Homo sapiens: one gene and its partners. The protein of the gene in region 2 interacts with the protein of the main gene of each other region in a pairwise test. Each region holds a gene or a part of one and is shown on either strand. Other genes may lie near its edges.

Region 1 (3,653 bases), on a different chromosome or scaffold from region 2:
AGTGCAAAAACAGCCACAGGTAAGTGGATGGTCATGGTACTATTCCAATAAACCTTTGTTTATAAGCAGTAGGTTAGATCTGGCCCAGAGCCATGACTTGAGGACTTCTGTTTCAACAAGATAGCTAAAATAATTTTGTACAAAGATAGAATATATTCTGCAAAATATCAATTTATGTTAACAACACTCATTATATTCAAAAAAAGCAAGGCTGTAATGACGAACTTTTAAATATCCGATTCTTATATACTACTTCACAATATTAGTGGTTTAAATATTAATTTATAATTTCACTTGTTATGAAATTGGTATAAAAATGTAAGAGGCAGAATTACATAGTGAAAAGTATGTTAGACAAGATTAAGTTTTAGCTCTATCACTGTCTATAAAATACTGGGCTTCTGATAGTCTGTCAATGGCAACTTACCTTGAGAAAAGTTTTCCATGAAATCTTCTCATAGCATTGCACAGGGTTCCTGAAGTAATCCTGAAGTGACCAGAATTTTCGATACAGGTTGTAATCAATTGGAATAGAGCTAATAAAATAAACGTTATATTAAATAAATCATTCAAATTCTTTTACAAATATCTAAATATTCTTAACTTAGCTTTGGTCACAAACCGTTTTCAGAAGCTAATGAAAGTTATCAGAAAAGTACACATTCACAAATGCTTATATAAACTTTTACAAATCATTTTAGGGAACTCATAGACCCCAATAGACTCTTTATCTACACTGGTGGAGCCCCTGAATTTTGGAAGGACACATGGTTATTCAGAATTAAAGATTATGTTTCCCAACCAATCTTGCTGCTCGCATGGTCATGTGATTAAATTCTGGCCAATCAGTTGAGAGCGGAAGTCATATGTGCAACTTTTGGGCCATATTTTATCACTGGCCTTTTCCTCTTCCTGCTGGCTAGAATGCAGATGTGAGCGTGAGCCACCTTGCACTACAGGAAAAAGGGCAAACACCAAGATGATGGAAGAAGAAGGTAGAAGAAGCCTGGGTCTAGGCAATCTCACCGAGCAGTGCTCCCTTACCAGCCTTGGACTGCCTGCTTCTAGACTTCGATATGAGGGGGAAAAATCAACTTTTATGTTGTTTAAACCAATGTTAATCTGAATCTATGTTAAAAGTCACAGGTATCATATCCTAACTAAAAATATTATATCCTAAGAAGCACCAGTATGAGAAAAACATATATGGTACATATCAAGTTAGCATCACAAAAATAAGCCCTTTATCTAGTAACTTTATTATGGCACTACTAATTCAACTTCTAATCTTGATATGTCACAAATCTACAGTGTCAATACATATTCTTTTAATTTAAATTTTTTTTTTTAAAGGAGTCTCACTCTGTTGCCCAGACTGGAGGGCAGTGGTGCGATCTCAGCTCACTGCAAGCTCCGCCTCCCGGGTTCAAGCGATTCTCCTGCCTCAGCCTCCTGAGTAGCTGGGACTACAGGCACCCGCCACCATGCCCGGCTAATTTTTTGTATTTTTAGTAGAGACAGCATTTCACCGTGTTATCCAGGATGGTCTCGAGTTCCTGACTTCATGATCTGCCCACCTCAGCCTCCCAAAGTGCTGGGATTACAGGCGTGTACCACTGCACCCGGCCTATTCTTTTAATTTTTAAAACAGCTAATATCTGATAAACGGCTAGTATCTGAAGCACGTGAAAATCAACAGTGAAGAATACTGACTTTTAACTAACAAAAATCTAAATCTAGTTCTTGCCAAAGCTTTCATCATGAATTAGTAGTATCTGAAAGACTCTAATGGGCATGTTTACTTTCGCTCTTCCTAAACTTTTCCCTAGTAACAACTCTGAAAGTAGGAAAACAATGATGTACACATTAACTTCTCTCTATAATTAAAGCAGCTTCACTGATTTACAACAGTAAGATTATACCTCTGGGTTTTCTATGAATTGGGTTTTTAAAAAAAGCCACAGGCTGGGCACGGTGGCTCACACCTGTAATCCCAACACTTTGGGAGGCTGAGGCGGGCGGATCACGAGGTCAGTTCAAGACCAGCCTGACCAACATACTGAAACCCCATCTCTACTAAAAGTACAAAAATTACCCAGGCATTGTGGTGCGTGCTTGTAGTCCCAGCTACTCAGGAGGCTGAGGCAGGAGAATCGCTTGAGCCCAGGAGGCAGAGCTTGCAGTGAGCCGAGATCACAGCACTGCACTCCAGCCTGGGTGACAGAGCGAGACTCCGTCTCAAAAAAGAAAAAAAAAAAAGCCGCAAAAAGAACATTCCCTAAAACGTTAAAGTAAATAGAGAAAAGAAATAGCACTATATAAATTATTTACATTCATGAAAGAACAAGAACCAATATTTGTATAGTTCCATACATTTGATAAAGAATGTTTCTGAAGTGCATGTGCACACACACACTGAGTAACAAAATGTTACTCAGTTACAACATGTAAGATTGAATATAATAAATACCTCTTGAAATGTACCAGGAAAGTTTGTCTCTTAAAAATGGGGCTACCTCTAACAGAGAATGAGACTCATGCAACCATTATATGTCCCTTTTTGTCTCAATTGCTAAGAACTTCACATCTAATTTAACACTTAATACCAATCACAATATTATTCCATGTTGCTAATTACCATCTCCTACCTGTAAAAGACTTTTGATCTCTTCCCTTTTATCTTTAATTGGCTTGGTGGGTATTTGAGGTGTCTTACAGAATAAATTTTGAAGTAGTGTTAATATCTTACTGTTAGGCAGTTTTTACAGTTGAGGCATTAATATATTTTTAAAAATTTAAAGTCCCCTCTCCTAGATGCTGTCCCTTGCTCTTTTCCTTCACAGCTGAATAAAATTCTTCAAAGAGTTGTCTATACTCCATGTCACCACTTCATTACCTTCCTGTTCATTCTTCAACCCACTTGCAATTTGCCTTCCACCTTCAACACTCCACAGAAACTTTTGAATTTTCTGTTTACCCACACAAAGCAAATGTAACCAATTATTGTATTTGCAAATAATAACAAATCAGAGACCCAGTTACTATGTAAAATAGAATGTCTTGTAACTATTTTAACCAAAAAAACTCTGGAAAACTTGATATATTTTTTTAAATGTTCAGCTATTTTACAGGATGTTATACATTGAAATTTCTTAACAAAAATGTTTACTGGTGTATTTGAGCCAAATCTGAAATGGACTTCATATTGTAGGTAGATGGGTAATGAGTTCTGCTTTGTAAATTACAGTGCCTAAGACCATCTGGTGATAACAGCTGTCACAAAGTAATTCCTCACGTATTTTCTCCCTCTATTCAACATTAGTGACTGTGACAGAGGCAGCTGAGTGTTGAGTCTTATTTAAGTGATTTACAAACATAACCAATAGGGATGAATTGTCTATACAGTCTTAGGCAAAATCTAAGCAGACAAAACTGCACTGGCCAGTGTCTTTTGGGCTGTTTACACTTCAGGTGACTCATCATCTTGTAGCCTACTAACTTGCCCCAGAGCCCTTATGTTGCTCAGGCCAGACCTTAAAGCCTACTTTATTCATGTATAATGAATAAATAGGTCTCTAAAAAAAAATAATAACGATAACAAATAATAGCTACTAGACACTGAATAGACAATATTCTAAGTGCTTTACACTTAC
Region 2 (3,375 bases):
ACCCAAGATCAGAGCCCTCGGGAGAGGTAGCAGGTGTGTGGGTGGGGGACAGTAGGAGCCGTGGACAGAGTTCAGTTTGGACACTGTTCTCTGGCGAGCAGACACACACTGGTTAGAAACAACTTTGGCCCCTAGTGCCTGGGCCATCCACCCACAACAGGAACTGTTCACACACCTCTGGGCCATCCTTGATGTGACTAAGGTGGGCAAGCACCATTTTATAGAAGAGTAAATGAAAGTCTAGAAGGATTAAAAACCTTGACCCAACTCACGAGGCTGGTAAGTGGGGCAGCAGTTTTGGCCTGGGGTTGCCCAACTTCTAAGCCTATGTTCATTCTCCAGGCCCCCTACCTCTGCGGCCCCGCAGGAGACAGTCATTACTGCTTTAACTGGACAGATGAATGGCAGCGCCAGGGCTGCCCAGAGGAAAGCGGGGAGGGGAAAGACCTGCCAAACCCTACCCCGCCGACAGAGCACGAGACGGGGGACAGGCCAGGAGTTTGCTTCTCTCCTTGGTCTACAACAAAAAAAAATTGGATTTAGCCAACAAAAAACACTGGCAGGAACTTTACAGTTTATAAAGCTTTTGCATAAGTCACCTCTGGTTCTTCCCAACCATCTTACGACGCTTTATTACTGTGATTTCAGAGAAGAAACAGGCTTACAGAGGTTAAGGGCTTGAGACCACTCAACTGGTTTTAAGTGGAATCCAGACCAGAGGTGCCGGCTCCACGTCTACTGCCCTTTCCACGGTGCCATGCTGCCTCCCACAAAACATCCACAGTGCCCTTGGCCAATGAGGGGCCGCCATCGGAGGTCACAGGAAGCCTTTTCACAGTCCCTCTGGGGCATGAGTGGGGAGCAGCTCTTCTCCCCAGAGCTTTAAAGCCCCATCGAGGAAGGGGTGAGAACTGACCTCCTGAAGTGCCCGAGTGTGTGTGTACGGGGAGAGTGGACTCAATTTTTATTTTTGAAACCTCATGCACAGAGTTCCTTATATTCCCCAGGTCCCACAAGAGTACCAGGTGCCATTTCAGAACCACCTTTCTAAACCTCTGCCCACCCACTGAAAGCAACACGGCCCTTCACAGCCTGGCTTCCTTCTTTTGACACACAGCCCTTCCGCTCCAGTGGAGAATCGCCAAAGATCATGAAGGGTAAATAGTCTCCTCTGAACCCCTGGTCTGGGAAACCCGTTTCAACCCCGGGGGGAGCCCAGTGGCCACTGGTGCTGCCCAGGGGCTGCTGTGGGGCAGAGATAACACACAGAGGAAGGGTGGGGTGGCAGGAGCCCTCCCAGGAGCAGGGCTTGCCTGTAAACAATGAGCTGCCGCCTCGCCAAGGCAGGAGGTGATTCATCTCCCCCGCTGCTCAGCTCCTGCTGGCTGCGCTCACCGGGCACCAAAGGACTGGGGCAGCCCTGGCCAGGCGCTGACGCCTCCCCACTCTCTGCACAGGTCAGGATCTCACCCCAGCCCTTCTGGAAACTGGCTTGACTTCAAAAGCCTTCCTGGGTGTGTCCAAAAAGTGATCTGGTCTGGGGAGTGCTCAAGTGCACTCAAGGGAGCACAGCTCCACCATCACCCGAGAACTGGCTGGGTTTTGGGATCAAGGCGGCAGATGGGGCATACGTGGGGCTCGGGGACTCCCGCCTGTCCATGCCCAGAGGCATACACGGATAACAACGGTGACTTCTTGGGTCACCCCTCTGAACAGCGTCCCAGGCCTCCATCACCCTGTTGTCAACCCTGAGGCAATAGTCCCAACCAAGACTATTGAGTCTTGGGGGACATGTGAGCTGAAGCATTTGCCTGCAAACAGAATGCAGGAGAGGCCAGTGCATCTGAGATGCCAAGAGGTAAGAATACGGCACTTTTAATAGGCGGCAGACCCCAGGTGGTGCGTGGACAGACCCTGTCCACAGCGCCTGGCTCCCGTGCTGCCTGTCCTTCCATCTGGAATGCCAAACAGAAGCTCCTCTCAGGTGGCATCTGGGGAGTAGGTCCCAGTCCTGAAATATACAAAGTGGCGCCTCCCACTGGGCAGTGGTCACTGGGCTGCACGGTCCTTTCAAGTCCTAGGGTGGCCCCTCAGGTCACTGCTTGGCCTTCTTCACAATGGTGCCCACAGCAGAGATGACGGTGGTCTTGGAGCCGCTGGCGCTGGTGGTGACCGTGACAACAGCTGGCAGGGTGGCTGTGGTGGTGAGGATGGTGGGCTGGGCTATCGTTGTCACTGGGATAGCCGAATCCCACTTGCTCTTTCTCTTCTGAGCATCTGGAGATAAAGCAGAAATCAGGATCACGATCCACCAATGAGCGGTGCCCTCTTTCCCTTCCCCCTGCAGGCCAGCGGGAGTCTAGGGAGCAGACCCCGAAGTGGCCCACCCCAGACTCCAAAGGTGCTTCTCAAAGTAGCAAGGCTGAGCCCAGGCCCAGATCCACGTGCTGTCTGTCGCCCAAACAAGCCAGGGAGACCCTGGCTCCATGTGTGTGGCAGGAGGCAGGGCAGCTCTGCAATCTACCTGCAACAGCTGTGCTGGCAGTGGTAGTGGTGGTGGACGTGGCGTTGGTCGTGGTGCCTTTTTTGGTGCCCGTCACAAACTCAATCTGGAGAGGGAGAGGGAAGAGAATAAGACCAGGCAAAGCTGGGTGTCCACAGCTTTTTGCCATCCGTCAGCTCCTGGGGGACAGGAGCTTGGCACTACACAAAAGAGGCATTGGAAATGAACTCTGCTCTGCCCATCTGGGGTAGGGCGAGATGTCTAAGAAGAACCCAAAGGGGCTTTTCACTCTTAAAAGAACTTTCCAAACAGTACTGTATCCCTCCCGGCATCACCAGGTCTCTGCACATGCCCGGCACCCCCCGCCCACCGCCCCACCTCACATGCCCAGAACCGTTTGGCCAGGCCCCTCCTCCTCACACCCAGGAGGAGGCGGTGCCCGCCCGCACAGGGGAAGGACAGCTCCGGTCCCCAGGCGCTGCAGACACGTCCCTGCAACAAGCCTGGGGTTTGGAAGGGAGAGGGAAAGAGAGAGAAGGGAGATTCAATCAAGGGTTAAGAATGAGAAACCCCAACTATCCCCTTGCACCAGCTCCCACGTTCCTGGCCCAGCAGCCAGCACCTCCAGAGGGCCACCAGCATGCCCAGGCCCCACAGCCCCTCTGCTTGGGGTGAGGGAAGCGGTCTGGAGGCCGCAGCTGCTTGAGGATGGTCAGGCCGAGCCAGAAGTGGGAGGAGCTGGTGTCCTGATGCCCGGCTCTGAGACTGGTCACAAAGGGAACAAGGCCCAGAGATAACAGTTTGGTCTCCCAGCCAAACTGATGCTCCCTGAAGAACCCAGACCACACTGCCAGGGAACAAGTGGTGCTCAG
Region 3 (3,653 bases), about 32 Mb from region 2:
ATTAATGTGAAGAAAAGAATATAGAAGGGGCAGCAGGGAATGGGAAAGAGACTGTAACAAGTGGTGCTACACACCTGTGATGTCAGAAAAAAGGTTAGTTGAGAGAAGTGAAGACCTGACTGCTTGACACTGGAATTATTTTTTTTTAGGTAGGGTCTTGCTCTGTCATCCAAGTGGGAGTGCAGTGGTGCAATCCTGACTCACTGCAGCCCCGACCTTCTGGGCTCAAGCGAGAAGAGGTCACTCTATGTTGCCAGGCTGGTCTCGAACTCCTGGGCTAAAGCAATCCACCCATCTCACCCTCCCAAAGTAATGGAATTACAGGTATGGCCACCATGCGCAGCACTCTCCCCTTTTTAAATAACTGCTATATCGAGATGTAATTCACAAACCATGTTACACTTTTTTTATTTTATTTTATTTTTTTGAGACAGGGTCTTGCTCTGTTTCCCAGGCTGGAGTGCAGTGACGCAATCACGGCTCACTGCAGCCTCAAATTCCTGGGTTCAAGGAATCCTCTCTCCTTGGCCTCCCAAAGTGCTGGGATTACAGGTATGAGCCACCAAGCCAGGTCTCCGTGTTACTCTTTTTAAGTGTTTAACTCAGTGTTTTACTGTATATTCATTAAGTTGTGCAACTATCCCCACTATTTAGAGTATTTTCATCATATCAGAAAGAAACCCTGTACCCATTAGCAGTTACTCCCCATTCCTCCCTTTTCCTTTCCCTTGGCAACCATTAGTCTACTTTCTATGTCTACGGGTTCTATTCTGGATACTTCATACAATATGTGGTCTGTTGTGCCTGGTTTCTCTCAGATTAATTTTTTTCTTTTTCTGAGACAGGGTCTGGCTCAGACGCCCAGCAGGCTGGAGTGCAGTGGCGAGATCTCAGCTCAGCAACCTCCACCTCCTGGGCTCAAGCAATCCTCCCACGTTAGCCTCCTGAGTAGCTGGGAATACAGGTGCACGTGATTACACACGGCTAAACTTTTTTTTTTTTTTTTTAGATGGAGTTTCGCAATTGTTGTCCAGGCTGGAGTGCAATGGCGTGATCTCGGCTCACTGCAACCTCCGCCTCCCAGGTTCAAGTGATTCTCTTGCCTCAGCCTCCCTAGCAGCTGGGATTACAGGTGCGTGCCACCACATCTGTTAATTTTTCTGTTTTTAGCACAGATGGGGTTTCACTATGTTGGCTAGGCTGGTCTCAAACTCCTGACCTCAGGTGATCCACCCGCCTCAGCCTCCCAAACTGCTGGGATTACAGGCATGAGCCACCATGCCTGGACTAATTTTTGTATTTTTTTAGAGACAGGGTTTCACCACATTGCCCAGCTTGGTTTCAAATTCCCCAACTCAAGTGATCTGTCTGCCTCAGCCTCCCAAAGTGCTGGGATTACAGGTGTGAGCCACCTTGCCCAGACCTAGCTTATATTTTCAAGATTCACCTTGGAATTGTGGCTTGAGGAGCAAAAAAAAATGAGCAGAATTTTAGTGGCTCTCTAGCATATGCAAACATTTTACAAATTTGATGCCAAAAGCTGGCTACGAAAAAATACTTATGCCTACTAACCAAATAAGTGAGCTTAGGCAGAGGCCAAAGGAGGGTCATGGAGAACATTTCACTAAAGGGTAAAAGGGAATGAATGGGTTTATTCTGAGGAAATGGAAGATGATATTGTTAAACAATGAACGAATATGTCCAACCTTCTACTGTAAATCTAATATTTTGGTTTTTATTTTTGTCGTTTTTAAAAATTTAATTTTAAAATAGAGACAAGGGCTAGGCACGGTGGCTCACCAGTAATCCCAGCACTTTGGGAGGCCAAGGTGGGCAAGATCATTTGAGGTCAGAAGTTCGAGACCAGCCTGACCAACATGGTGAAACGCTGTCTCTACCAAAAATGCAAAATAATTACTCGTGCGTGGTGGCGGTCACCTGTAGTCCCAGCTACTTGAGGCTGAGGCAGGAGAATCGCTTGAACCCAGGAGGCAGAGGTTGCAGTGAGCCAAGACTGCACCACTGCACTCCAGCTGGGGCAACATAGTGAGACTCCATCTCAAAAACTAAACTAAACTAAACTAAAATAACAAAACAAAACAAAATAAAATAAAATACAGATAAGGTCTTACTATGTTGCCCAGACTGGTCTTGAACTCCTGGCCTCAAGCAATTCTCCTGCCTCGGCCTCCCAAAGTGTTGGGATTACAGGCGTGAGCCATCATGCCGAACCTAATCTAATATTTGAATCTCTATTACATGCAGCCAAACTGATATCTAAATTAACACAATTCCCAAACTTCTGTCTCCAGCCCAGACCTCTCTTCTGAGCTCTTATACTCAATTCTACACTGGATACCTCAACCTAAGATGTCCTCTAGTTGCCTCGGACACAAGTCCAAAACGGAATTTGACCATCTTTCCCCACAAACCCATTTCTCCTCCAGTGTTCCCATCATTCATCCTAGTGCTCATACCAGAAACCTGGAAGTCATCTTTGACCATTCCTGTTGCCCCACATTCAACAAATTACTTTTCTCAAGTACATCCCTCCTCTTTGCTACCTCCATGTTCAAGCCACCATTCTCTCTCTTCATAAAAGCTTTCTAAATCATCACATGTGCCCCATCCAACTCATTCTGCAGGGCACCCTCAATCATCCTTTGGAAATGCAACTCTGGTCATGCCATGTGCCAGCTGCAAACTTTCAACATCTGGCTGGGCACGGTGGCTCACACTTGTAATCCCGGCACTTTGGGAGGCTGAGATGGGGGGGGGATCACCTGAGGTCGCGAGTTCGAGACCAGCCTGACCAACATGGAGGAACCTCGTCTCTACTAAAAATACAAAAAATTAGCTAGGCGTGGTGGTGCATGCCTGTAATCCCAGCTACCTGGGAGTCTGAGGCAGGAGAATCACTTGAACCAGGGAGGTGGAGGTTGCAGTGAGTCAAGATCATGGTGTTGCACTCCAGCCTAGGCAACAAGAGCAAAACTCTGTCTCAGAAACAAAAACAACAACAACAAAAGAACTTTTCAACATCTCCCAGTGCTATTAGAATTGAGCCCAGCTTCCTAATGCCACCTACAAAGCCCTGGCCTGATGTTCTTATCTCATCCCCTACCACTGCCCACTGCTCTCTCTATTCCATCCACACAAGCCTTCTTTCAGTTCCTTCTTTCCCACCCCACAAACCCAACACGGGCTACTCCTCAGGCTGGAACATACTCCCCAACCTCCATCCCATCTCCACTTGACAGACTGAGTCCAATTTATCCTTTGGGTCTCGATTTCCCCAGGGAAGTGACCCACCACAGTCAATTACACTGCCTGTACTTCTTCACATGGCACTGATCATAATTTAATTATTTGGTGATTATTTAATTAATATCCATATCCCCGACTAAGTTGTAGCGCATAAAAGCAGGGATCATATCTGTTTAATTCAAATCGTATCCCCAGTTGCCAAACACAAATTAAATTAATAAGTATTTGTTATGACTATATCTAGTAGCTAATATTTACTGCACAAAGAATTATATGAAAAAGGAAGCTTCAAAGCTGTATTACCTTTAGAATAAAAATTTTTTTTTTGAGACGGAGTCTCACTCTGTAGCCAGGCTGGAGTGCAGTGGCGCGATCTTGGCTCACTG

What was found.
Region 1: the proteins of SAP30BP (region 2) and THOC1 interact in a two-hybrid assay, tested with the Homo sapiens proteins (one large-scale study listed by BioGRID and IntAct).
Region 3: the proteins of SAP30BP (region 2) and DHX8 interact in a two-hybrid assay, tested with the Homo sapiens proteins (one large-scale study listed by BioGRID and IntAct).

What each region holds. Positions count from the first base shown.
Region 1 is NC_000018.10:247,422-251,074, forward strand, and holds part of THOC1 (THO complex subunit 1), read right to left. Parts: intron 537-3,653; coding exon 428-536; intron 1-427. UniProt on the Homo sapiens protein: Component of the THO subcomplex of the TREX complex which is thought to couple mRNA transcription, processing and nuclear export, and which specifically associates with spliced mRNA and not with unspliced pre-mRNA.
Region 2 is NC_000017.11:75,705,242-75,708,616, reverse strand, and holds the end of SAP30BP (SAP30-binding protein), read right to left. Parts: intron 3,007-3,375; coding exon of another isoform or gene 2,926-3,006; intron 2,610-2,925; coding exon 2,525-2,609; intron 2,278-2,524; coding exon 2,096-2,277; 3' UTR 558-2,095; downstream 1-557. UniProt on the Homo sapiens protein: Plays a role in transcriptional repression by promoting histone deacetylase activity, leading to deacetylation of histone H3.
Region 3 is NC_000017.11:43,500,851-43,504,503, reverse strand, and holds part of DHX8 (ATP-dependent RNA helicase DHX8), read right to left. Parts: intron 1-3,653.